Regions from separate parts of the Homo sapiens genome. Here region 2 is linked to region 1. Evidence: fine-mapped expression QTL. A gene starts in region 1. The other region holds a variant in brackets. All regions are shown on one strand. Distances are from middle to middle.

The links.
Region 2: its variant is fine-mapped to the expression of MILR1 in esophagus muscle (GTEx, PIP 0.99).

What each region holds. Positions count from the first base shown.
Region 1 is chr17:64,446,844-64,452,218 of GRCh38, forward strand. MILR1 (mast cell immunoglobulin like receptor 1) reads left to right here and starts at 2,272. Exons shown (of 10, transcript NM_001085423.2): 1 at 2,272-2,380; 2 at 2,471-2,512. The coding sequence starts at 2,326. RefSeq lists a silencer at 2,135-2,184.
Region 2 is chr17:64,420,428-64,425,802 of GRCh38, forward strand. No RefSeq gene overlaps it. Among named protein-coding and RNA genes, the nearest start is that of MILR1, 26 kb to the right of the region's middle. The variant C/T (reference allele first, on the strand shown) is at 2,615.

The sequences.
Region 1 (5,375 bases):
TCCCACAACTTCGGGAGGCCGAGGCAGGCAGATCACCTGAGGTCAGGAGTTCGAGACCAGCCTGGCCAATGGGGTGAAATCCCGTCTCTACTAAAAATACACAATTTAGCCAGGTGTGGTGGCACGTACCTGTAATCCCAGTTACTTGGGAGGGTGAGGCAGGAGAATCCCTTGAACCCAGGAGGTGGAGGTTTCAGTGAGCCGAGATAGCGCCACTGCACTCCAGCCTGGGCAACAGAGCGAGACTCCATCTCAAAAAAAAAAAAAAAAAAAGAGAGAGAAAGAAAATGTGGGTGCGGGGAATGATTCTATGGTTGTCTGTTCTTTTCCAGCTGGCCAGCAGTGGTAGCCAAAAAGTGACAGGATGCTGATGAAAAACATTGCAGACGTGAAGAAAAGAAAAAGTTGATGGAATTTTGCACATGTATCTGACAGTTCACCCATCCAAACTTTTATAAAGTGCTGTAAAGTTGTTGTAGTAAGGGTGGGGCATGGTGGTTCATGCTTGTAATCCTAGCACTTTTGGAGGCCACACGCAGGAGAATCGCTTGAGCCCAGGAGTTCAAAACCAGCCTGGGCAATATAGTGAGACTTCATCTCTATAAAAAAGTTAAAAACCTAGTAGTGTATGGTGGTTTGTGCCTGTGGTCCCAGCTACTAGAGAGGCTGAGGTGGAAAGATAGTTTGATTCTGGTAAGTGGAGATTGCAGTGAGCCAAGATGGTGCCACTGTGCTCTAGCTTGGGAGACAGAGCAAGATTCAGTATCAAACCTCCTAGCTAGAGGATGCTAGCTAGGTGACGCTGAGTCAATAAGGAAGGATTTGGTTACATCTTGGGACCTAAGGTACAGAGATGAATGTCCCAGCTCAAGGCTGCCCCAGCCATTCAACTCCTTGCTTCCTCTCTTGGTGGACCTGTCAATTCTTGCAAGTGTCAACCAGCTGTCTTGCCCACCTAGCCCTATAGTCATACCTTTCTATCCTTTTGGTGATCTCCACTCCATCAAGAAGTGGCTCTGCACATTCTATTTCAACTGACTTTTTTTTTTTTTTTTTGAGACAGAGTTTTGCTCTATCACCCAGGCTGGAGTGCAGTGGTGCAATCTTGGCTCACTGCAACCTCCACCTCCCGGGTTCAAACGATTCTTCTGCCTCAGCCCCTCAAGTAGCTGGAATTATAGGCACGCATCACCACACCCAGTTAAGTTTTTTGTATTTTTACTAGTGATGGGATTTCGCTGTGTTGGCCAGGCTGGTGTCAAACTCCTGACCTCGGGTGATCCGCCTGCCTCAGCCTTCCGAAGTGCTAGGATTACAGGCATGAGCCACCGCACCCAGCCTGCACGTTCTATTTCAAAGGCTGATCTAAGGTAACTCCTACTTCAGATCTCCTGGCACTGGAGGGCTTGCCGTAATATCAAGTCCCCAAGGCTCCCTTGATTCAGAAATCACTGAGGCAGCAGCACCTTGTACAGATATTTCTCAGCCTTCACTGTGCGTAAGAATTGCTCAGGGCCCTTGTTTAAAAAAAAAAAAATCAGCGTCCTGGACTTGAAACCCAGTAAGTCTGGAGTGGGGTCTAGGAATCAACGTTTAACAAAAGCAGGCATTTTTGGCCAGGCACAGTAGCTCACACCTGTAATCCCAGCACTTTGGGAGGCTGAGGCGGGAGGATCACTTGAGCTCAGGAGTTTAACACCAGCCTGGGCAACTAGACCCCTGTCTTTACAAATAAAAATAATTAGCCAGTCCTGATGGTGCACACCTGTGGTCCCAGCTACTCAGGAGCCTGAGGTGGGACGAGCACTTGAGCCCAGGAGTTTGAGGCTGCAATGAGCTATGATCACAGCACTCCACTCCAACCTGGGTGACAGAGTGAGGCCAGTCTCAAAAAAAAAAAGCAGGCATTTTTGATACAATATTTGTATGTATCTGCTTAAGACAGTCGGTTTGCTTCCAAAGACTAAATCAAACTTCCACCAAACTCCTTTTGGCATAGACTGAGTCCAGAGCAAGGAGATCAGATGGGTTTACATAGACAATGTAACAGTCAGATTTACCTCTTCTCTTTCCCAGCCAGCATGGGACGATGTGGGGGTGTGGGGGGGTGGGGGGGGCGGGGGAGTGGCAATCTACCAAATATCTCTCTTCTTACAGGAACTCACAGAGGAAGACAGATTGGTCGAACAAACCAGTATTATGCAAACCTCATCCAAACCCTCTGATTTCCTTAACTTGGCTAAGAAAAAGAGGAAGTTCTCCGAGTTACTCACCACTGTGGTTCTACTATGCCTTCTGACCCCGTCTTGGACTTCAACTGGGAGAATGTGGAGCCATTTGAACAGGCTCCTCTTCTGGAGCATATTTTCTTCTGTCACTTGTAAGCCCCCCTTATCATTCTGAGGCTCGAACCTCCAAGCCAACGTGTCATGTGGAAAGTGAGCTTTATCGTGTTCCTTTTCTGTTTCAGGTAGAAAAGCTGTATTGGATTGTGAGGCAATGAAAACAAATGGTAAGTTTCATTTACTTCTTTCTTATTGAAACCATTTTCACTGAAGTGGTGAGACAGTCTGATTGCAACATAAGCGTCCATTCAAAAGTGTTTCTGAGCTTTTATGAACAACCAAAGAACAGTCTTTTCAATTATCTATCATTTAAAATAAAATGATTTTAGGGAGGGGATTGCAGCATTTTTTTCTGAGACTCAGTGAGAAAAATAATGAAATTTGTTTTCACAATGAAAGTTTTCTAACTTTCCTTGTTATTGTTGTTTTATGGTTGTTGTGTTTTAACTAGAAAGCCAACACACAGGCTGGGTGTGGTGCCTCCGGCCTGTAATCGCAGCACTTTGGAAGGCTAATGGGGTAGGATTGCTTGAGCTCAGGAGTTTGAGACCAGCCTGAACAACATAGTGATACCTCGTTTCTTAAAAAAATAAAACAAAATAAAAAAACCCACAGAATTATTGTGAAATAATTCAAGCAACACTAGAAATATACATTGGGAAGTGGTCTAACCTCTGGTTCTACTAGTTACTAGCCAGCAGCCTGAGCTCATGACATACCCAGTTTGACCTTAATTTCTTTCTTTCTTTCTTTCTTTCTTTTTTTTTTTGAGATGGAGTCTCAGTCTGTCGCCCAGGCTGGAGTCAGTGGTGCAATCTCGGCTCACTGCAACCTCTGCCTCCCAGGTTCAAGTGATTCTCCTGCCTCAGCCTCCCGAGTAGCTGGGACTACAGGCGTGTGCCACCAAGCCTGGCTAATGTTTTGTATTTTTTGTAGAGACGGGGTTTCACATCGTTAGCCAGGATGGTCTCGATCTCCTGACCTCGTGATCCGCCCACCTTGGCCTCCCAAAGTGCTGGGATTACAGGCGTGAGACACTGTAATTTATTTCATCTGTGAAGTGGGCTAATAAAAGCACCTACCTGGTAGGCTAGTGTGCAGATCAAATGAGACAATCCCTGCTCCTCGTCACAGTGCCAGGCATATGGTAAACCATCCGTAAGTGATAGCCAAGGTGGTGGTTGTTACTGTATAAAATGTAAAAGTTCTGTTACAATCCTCCTCCAATTCTTCTCCCCTTCCTATCCAGAAGCAGCCGTTATCAACAGTCACTTTATATTCGTTATCTTTTTTTGTTTGTTTGTTTTTGAGACAGAGTTTCACTCTTGTTGCCCAGGCTGGAGTACAGTGGCACAATCTCGGCTCACTGCAACCTCCGCCTCCTGGGTTCAAGGGATCCTCCTGCCTCAGCCTCCCGAGTAGCTGGGATTACAGGCACGTGCCACCATGCCTGGGTAATTTTTGTATTGTTTTTTGGTAGAGACGGGGTGTCATCATGTTGGCCAGGCTGTTCTTGAACTCTTGACCTCGTGATCCTCCTGCCTCTGCCTCCCAAAGTGCTGGGGTTACAGGCATGAGCTACCACACCAGCCTTAGCTCCTCTTTTTCAACAGCTGCATGGTATTTTAAGACTCAGCCATGATTCGTTTAACCATCCTTATTTATTGCCCTGCTTTTTGGGGGCAATATAAACAATGCTACAATAAACATCCTTGTACACAACGTCCTTTGTGGATGCATGAGAGCTTGAAAGCATCTCTGTAGAATGAAATTCTAGAATTGAAATTGCAAGGTCATAGGGCATACACATTTAAATTGTTACAGACCCTGCTAAGTTGCCCTCCCAACAAGGCTGATCGTATCCTATCAGTCACCAACGGTGGGTGAGTTTCCCCACCCACTCCCCAGTGGTGGATATAATCACTTTTACTTTTAAATTTTATTTAGGGTTTTTTTTTTTCTTTCTTTCTTTGAGACAGAGTCTCTGCTCTGTCGCCCAGGCTGGAGTGCAGTGGTGCGATCTTAGCTTTCCGCAGCCTCGACCTTCCAAGCTCAATTGATCCTCCCACCTCAGCCTCCTGAGTAGTGCCATACAGGTACGCACCATCATGCCCAGCTAATTTTTGTATTTTTAGTAGAGACAGGGTTTCACCATTTGCCCAGGCTGGTCTCGAACTCCTGGACTCAAGAGATCTGCCTGCCTCAGCCTCCCAAATTGCTGGGATTACAGGCATGAGCCACCATGCCTGGCCAATCATTTTTAAACTTTGTACCAATCTGATGAGTGAAAAATGATATCTCAGTGTTGTTTTAATTTGCAGTTGCCTCATTACTTGTGAAGTTGAGCATCTTTTTCATGTTTACTGGCCACAAAAGCTCTAGCATTCCTAGATAAAAAAAACTTAGGGATGGCTATTTGGTTGGAAAGGTAGTTTAGGTCTTGTCTTAAAGTTGAGTTTATATGGCGGGGCACAGTGACTCACACCTGTAATCCCGGCACTTTGGGAGGCTGAAGCAGGCAGTCACTTGAGGTCAGGAGTTCAAGACGAGCCTGGACAACATGGTGAAACCCTGTCTCTACCAAAACTACAAAAATTAGCTGGGCATGGTGGTGTGTGCCTATAGTTCAGCTACTCAGGAGGCTGAGGCAGGAGGATCAGTTGAGCCTGGAAGGTGGAGGCTGTGGTGAGTCAAGATGGTGCCACTGCGCTCCAGCCTGGGCAACAGAGTGAGACTCTGTCTCAAAAAAAAAAAAAAGTTGAGCTTATATAAGACTGAGAAAATGTTAATTGTCCAGATCAAAGAGTGGGAGGAGAGTTTACTGCATTTTTAAAAGCATTTTTGAAGAGTCTAAATCTGTCTTCCACCCAAGCCATCCATTGGTCCCAGCTATGTTTTTTTTTTTTTTTGTTCTGTTTTGTTTTTTAAAAATTAGAGACGAGGTCTCACTTGTTGCCCAGGCTGTTCTCGAACTCCTGACCTCAAGTGACCCTCCCACCACAGCCTCCCAAAGTGCTAGGATTATAGGCG
Region 2 (5,375 bases), 26 kb before region 1:
AACTGTTTATGCCTTAACACTTTATTTTTATTTTCGCTTGTTTTTCTTTTGAGTCACTTGAAATTAAATTTAAAAAGTTGAGGCCAGGCGCAGTGGCTCACTCCTGTAATCCCAGCACTTTGGGAGGCTAGTGTGGAAGGATCACGTGAGCCCAGGAATTCAAGACCAGCCTGAGCAATACAGTGACACCTTGACTCTACAATAAATACAAAAAATTAGCCAGGTGTGGTGGTGCGCACCTGTAGGCTCATCTACTCAGGAGGCTGAGGTGGGAGGATCACCTCAGCCTGGGAGATGGAGGTTACAGTGAGCCAAGATCACACCACTGCACTCCAGCCTGGGCTACAGAGCAAGACCCTGTCTCAAACAAACAAGCAAACAAGCAAAACAAACAAACAAGAAACAAGTTCACTCAGGTCAGCTGATGTAGTCTTCCCAGAATCCTCAGCACCCCCTTCCCTGAAGGGGGTCTGGAGGTCCACTGGCATCACTTTGGGACCTAGGGAGTGCAGCATTCTCCCAGGCGGCAGCCCAGGCCATTCCGGATACAAGACAGCAAGACAGAGTCACCAGAGCCCTTACTTGTCCCCTGTCCCTACAAGGAAACCCAAAGCCTTCCTTCCTTCCTTGTGCTCAGCCTGTGGTAAACACCCAGATTTTCTGGAATCGTCTTCTCTCCACTAACAAAATCTTGACAAATCATCTCTTAGGATAGGTCACTTCTGCTGGCAGCTAAGGGCCTACCCAGATCCTTATTGGCTTTGGTTTAAAAGGGTAATTTCAGCTGGGCATGGTGGTGTACCCCTGTAATCCCAGCATTTTGGGAGGCTGATGTGGGAGGATCGCTTGAGCTCAGGAGTTCAAGACCAGCCTGGGAAATATAGCAAGACCTCATCTCTACTAAAATTAAAAAAAAAAAAAAAAATCAGCCGGGCATGGTGGCAAGCACCCGTAATCCCAGCTACTCGGGGAGGTGAGGCGGGAGCTTGATCCTTTAACCCTGTGACCATGTCAGGGTACTTTCTCTTGGCTTCTGCCATCTGAAGGGTGGGAATTTTGGAGGTTCATATCATATTTAGCTCTAAAAATTAACTTGAGCAGCTAAAAGCCTTTGCAAGCTCGAAATTGACTGCTTTAGGCTCCTTCTGGGAAGAGTACTAGAAATTGCCCGGCACCCTAGCTAAGTGGCTAAGGCCTTATCTTTTTTTTCACAGTGGTGGCCTCGGTTCAATTCCCGGCTTAGGGAATAAGTGCTTTCTGGTTTGCTGTCTGTGTGACTTTTGCCAGTTATTAATTATCTTCCCTACCATGAACAACTTCTGACTTCCCATCTTGAATTTTCCTTTCTCTGAGCTACATTTGGCGATTCTAGATCTTGTAACAACTGCTTACCACCTCTTTGAAAATACCACACACACCAGGCACAGTGGCTCATGCCTGTAATCCCAGCACTTTAAAAGGAGGCCGAGGCAGGTGGATCCCTAAGGTCAGAAGTTTGAGACCAGCCTGGCCAACATGACGAAAACCCTGTCTCTACTAAAAATACAAAAATTAGCTGGGCATGGTGGCACGTGCCTGTAATCCCAGCTACTGGGGGGCTGACGTAAGAGGATAGCTTGAGCCTGGGAGACAGAGGTTGCAGTGAGCTGAGATCGTGCGTGCCACTGCACTCTTTGAAAATACCACACATGCCGGACACAGTGGCTCACACCTGTAATCCCAGCACTTTAAAAAGAGGCCGAGGCGGGTGGATCCCCTGAGGTCAGAAGTTTGAGACCAGCCTGGCCAACATGAAGAAACCCCATCTCTACTAAAAATACAAAAATTCGCTGGGCGTGGTTGCGCATGCCTGTAATCCCAGCTACTAGGGGGGCTGACGTAAGAGGATAGCTTGAGCCTAGGAGACAGAGGTTGCAGTGAGCTGAGATTGTGCGTGCCACTGCACTCTCGCCTGGGCAACAGACCAAGACTCCATCTCAAAAAAAAACAAAACAAACAAACAAAAAAAAAAAACAAAAAAATGCACATCCATGGTTAAGTCATAATCCTAGTTAAGTCTTATTCGTTTCACCTGGAAGGTTACCTTTGGTCAAGTCCAAAAGCCAGGAATATCAGCTATTTGTCCTGGCTAGAGTGGTAATAAGAGATTTGGTTAAAAGTCAGGCTCTGCTCTGTTTTGCATTGTGTTACCTGATGTTTTTTACATTTAGGGTATGAGAGATTACATTATGAGAGAGCTTTTAGCCTTAATGTGTAATAACTAGGTAGGAAATATACTTCAAGGGATGGCTAATGGCAGTTATAGGGGAGTACTCAGTTCTTTGCATGTTTGGATCAGAGAAGCATGCTCTTGACCACCTAGAAGGTATGGAAACATACCCACCCACCCCCACTGAGAGATAAGACTCCTATAAGGGATAGCCTGATTCCCTTTATTTGGGGATCCAAGCCTGCTTATTAGTCCCTAGAAACTGCATACTTTCCTGGCCCTGTTCCTTAAAAGGCTCCACTCTAAAGCCAGTAATTAACTGAGGTCTTTTTTTTTTTTTTTTTTTTTTTTTTCTGAGACAGAGTCTTGTTCTGTCGCCCAGGCTGGAGTGCAATGGCATGATCT[C/T]GGCTCACTGCAAACTCCACCTCCCGGGTTCAAGCTATTCTCCTGCCTCAGCCTCCCGAGTAGCTGGGATTACAGGTGTGCACCACCATGTCTGGCTAATTTTTGTATTTTTACAAAATTAGGGATGGGGTTTTGCCATGTGGGCCAGGCTGGTCTCGAACTCCTGACCTCAGGTGATCTGCCCACCTCAGCCTCCCAAAGTGCTGGGATTACAGGCGTGAGCCACTGCACCTGGCCTTAACTTACGTCTTTAAAGAACTCTCCATGTGTAAGATTTTCCTGGCCGTCTTGAAACTGCCTTTGCAAAACTATGACTGAGACCGTGAAAAAGATCTAACTTAATTGACTCCATTTGCTTCTAACCTCCAATCTGTCCGTGTCCTTTCCTAGGCAGGCTGAACTAACTTTGGGAGAAACTTGGTTTATAGTTTAAAACAAAGATAAGTCGGGTGCAGTGGTGGCTGGGTGAGGTAGCTTACGCCTGTAATCCCAGCACTTTGGGAGGCTGAGGCTGGTGGATCACCTGAGGTTAGGAGTTCGAGACCAGCCTGACCAATATGGTGAAACCCTGTCTCTACTAAAAATACAAAAATTAGCTGGGTGTGGTGGCGGGCACCTGTAGTCCCAGCTACTCGGGAGGCTGACACAGGACAATTGCTTGAACCTGGGAGGTGGAGGTTGCAGTGAGCTGAGATCCCGCCACTGCACTCCAGCCTGGGCAACAGAGCGAAGACTCCATCTCAAAAACAACAAACAAACAAACAAACAAAGACAATAACAGCCCTTTCCCAAAGCAGACCTCCTTCTTGCCTGGGGACTAGATTGCCTTTTTAGGACTAACATTAGCCACAAGATTAGAAATTATGGTTTAAGAGTCATGCAGCTGGAGGCTGCAAGATTCTGACCCTCCCTAAACTGCTCCTAAGATCAGGGCTTGAGGTATTTTGCAGACCCTGCTCCTGATGGATCAGCTGGCACCACCCAGGTCAATAAACTGACTCATCTGATCTTGTGGCCACCACCCAGGAACTCAGTGCAAGAAGACAACTTCTACTCCCTGTGGATTTCATTCCTGACCAATCAGCACTCCTGGCTTCCTGGCTTCCCCCTACCCACCCTTAAAAACTGTGCTCCCTGAATGCTTGGGGAGACTGATTTGAGTAATAATAAAACTCTGGTCTCCCGCAGAGCCGGCCGTGTGTGAATTACCCTTTCTCTATTGCAATTCTCCTGTCTTAATAAATCGGTCTGTCTAGGCAGTGGGCAAGGTGAACCCACTGAGCCGTTACAGTCTTAACTGCAGTTATTCACACCCTTTTCCTTGGTTTGAGTAAAATATAGATTTGTTATTGGAAAGGGGTCTCAATCTAGACCTCAAGAAAGGGTTCTTGGATCTCACACAAGGGGTAATCCAGGGTGAGTCCACAGAGTAAAGAGAAAGCAAGTTTTTATTAGAAAAGTAAAGAAACAAAACAATGGCTACTCCATAGGCAGTGCAGCCCCAAGGGCTGCTGGTTGGCTATTTTTGGAAATTTCTTAATTATATGCTAAACAAGGGATGGATTACTCATGAGCTTTCTGGGAAAGGGGCAAGGAATTCCTGGAACTGAGGATTTCTCTTCCTTATAGACCCTATAGGTTAACTTCCAGACATTGCCATGGCATTTGTAAACTCTCATGGCACTGGTGGGAGTGTCTTTTAGCATGCTAATGCATTATAATGAGCATATAATGAGCAGTGAGGACAGCCAGAGGTAGCTTTCCTCACCATCTTGGTTTTGGTGGGTTTTGGCAGCTTCTTACTACATCCTTTTTTATCAGCTGGGTCTTTGTGACCTGTATCTTGTGCTGATCTTCTGTCCTGTGACTAAGAATGTCTCTCTGGGAGTGCAGCCCAGCAGGTCTCAGCCTCATTTTACCCAGTCCCTATTCAAGAGGGAGTTGCTCTGGTTCGAATGCCTCTGAAACATTTGCTAAATGCTTTAATATCATAAACTGCTTTAACTTTTTCTTTTTTTTTTTTTTTTTGAGACTGGAGTCTCGCTGTGTCACCCAGGCTGGAGTACAGTGGCTCGATCTCGGCTCACTGCAGCCTCCACTTCCTGGGTTCAAGCAATTCTCCTGCCTCAGCCTCCTGAGTAGCTGGAACTACAGGTATGTGCCACTACGCCTGGCTAATTTTTGTATTTTTTTAGTAGACTCAGGGTTTCACCATGTTGGCCAGGACGTTTCTTTAATTTGATAATTGTTCATCTTAACTGCTTTGGAGCCATTAGATTCTAAGTAAGCCCCATTAGATTCTAGATAATGCCTAACCTCCTAGGAATGCAGCCCAGCAGGTCTCAGCCTCACTTTACCCAACTCCTACTCAAGATGGAGTCATTCTTGTTCCAGTGCCTCTGACACACTCCCCCTCCCTTTTACAGGGAGACTTTTCATCCTAAGTGTTGTAGAGCGATGAGGATCCATCATCTGTAATTTCTTTAGGAGAAATAAGGGTGATGACATTCCTGCCTAACTATTAGTTTCTCTAGTATTCAGGGTAGAGAGAAGCTTAATCAGAGAGCATTGGTATGGTCAAGGCCAATCATAACTCTGAGTTCTGACAAAAGGTGATATTTAGAAGATTAACAGGTGTTCAATTTAAGAAATTATCTAAAGTAAACTAAGTAAGGAGGCTTTCCATGAACTAGACAACTGTTGGAACCAAGGTGATATGGAGTCGCTAGCCAATTCCATCTGTCCCAGAATTAGATATTGA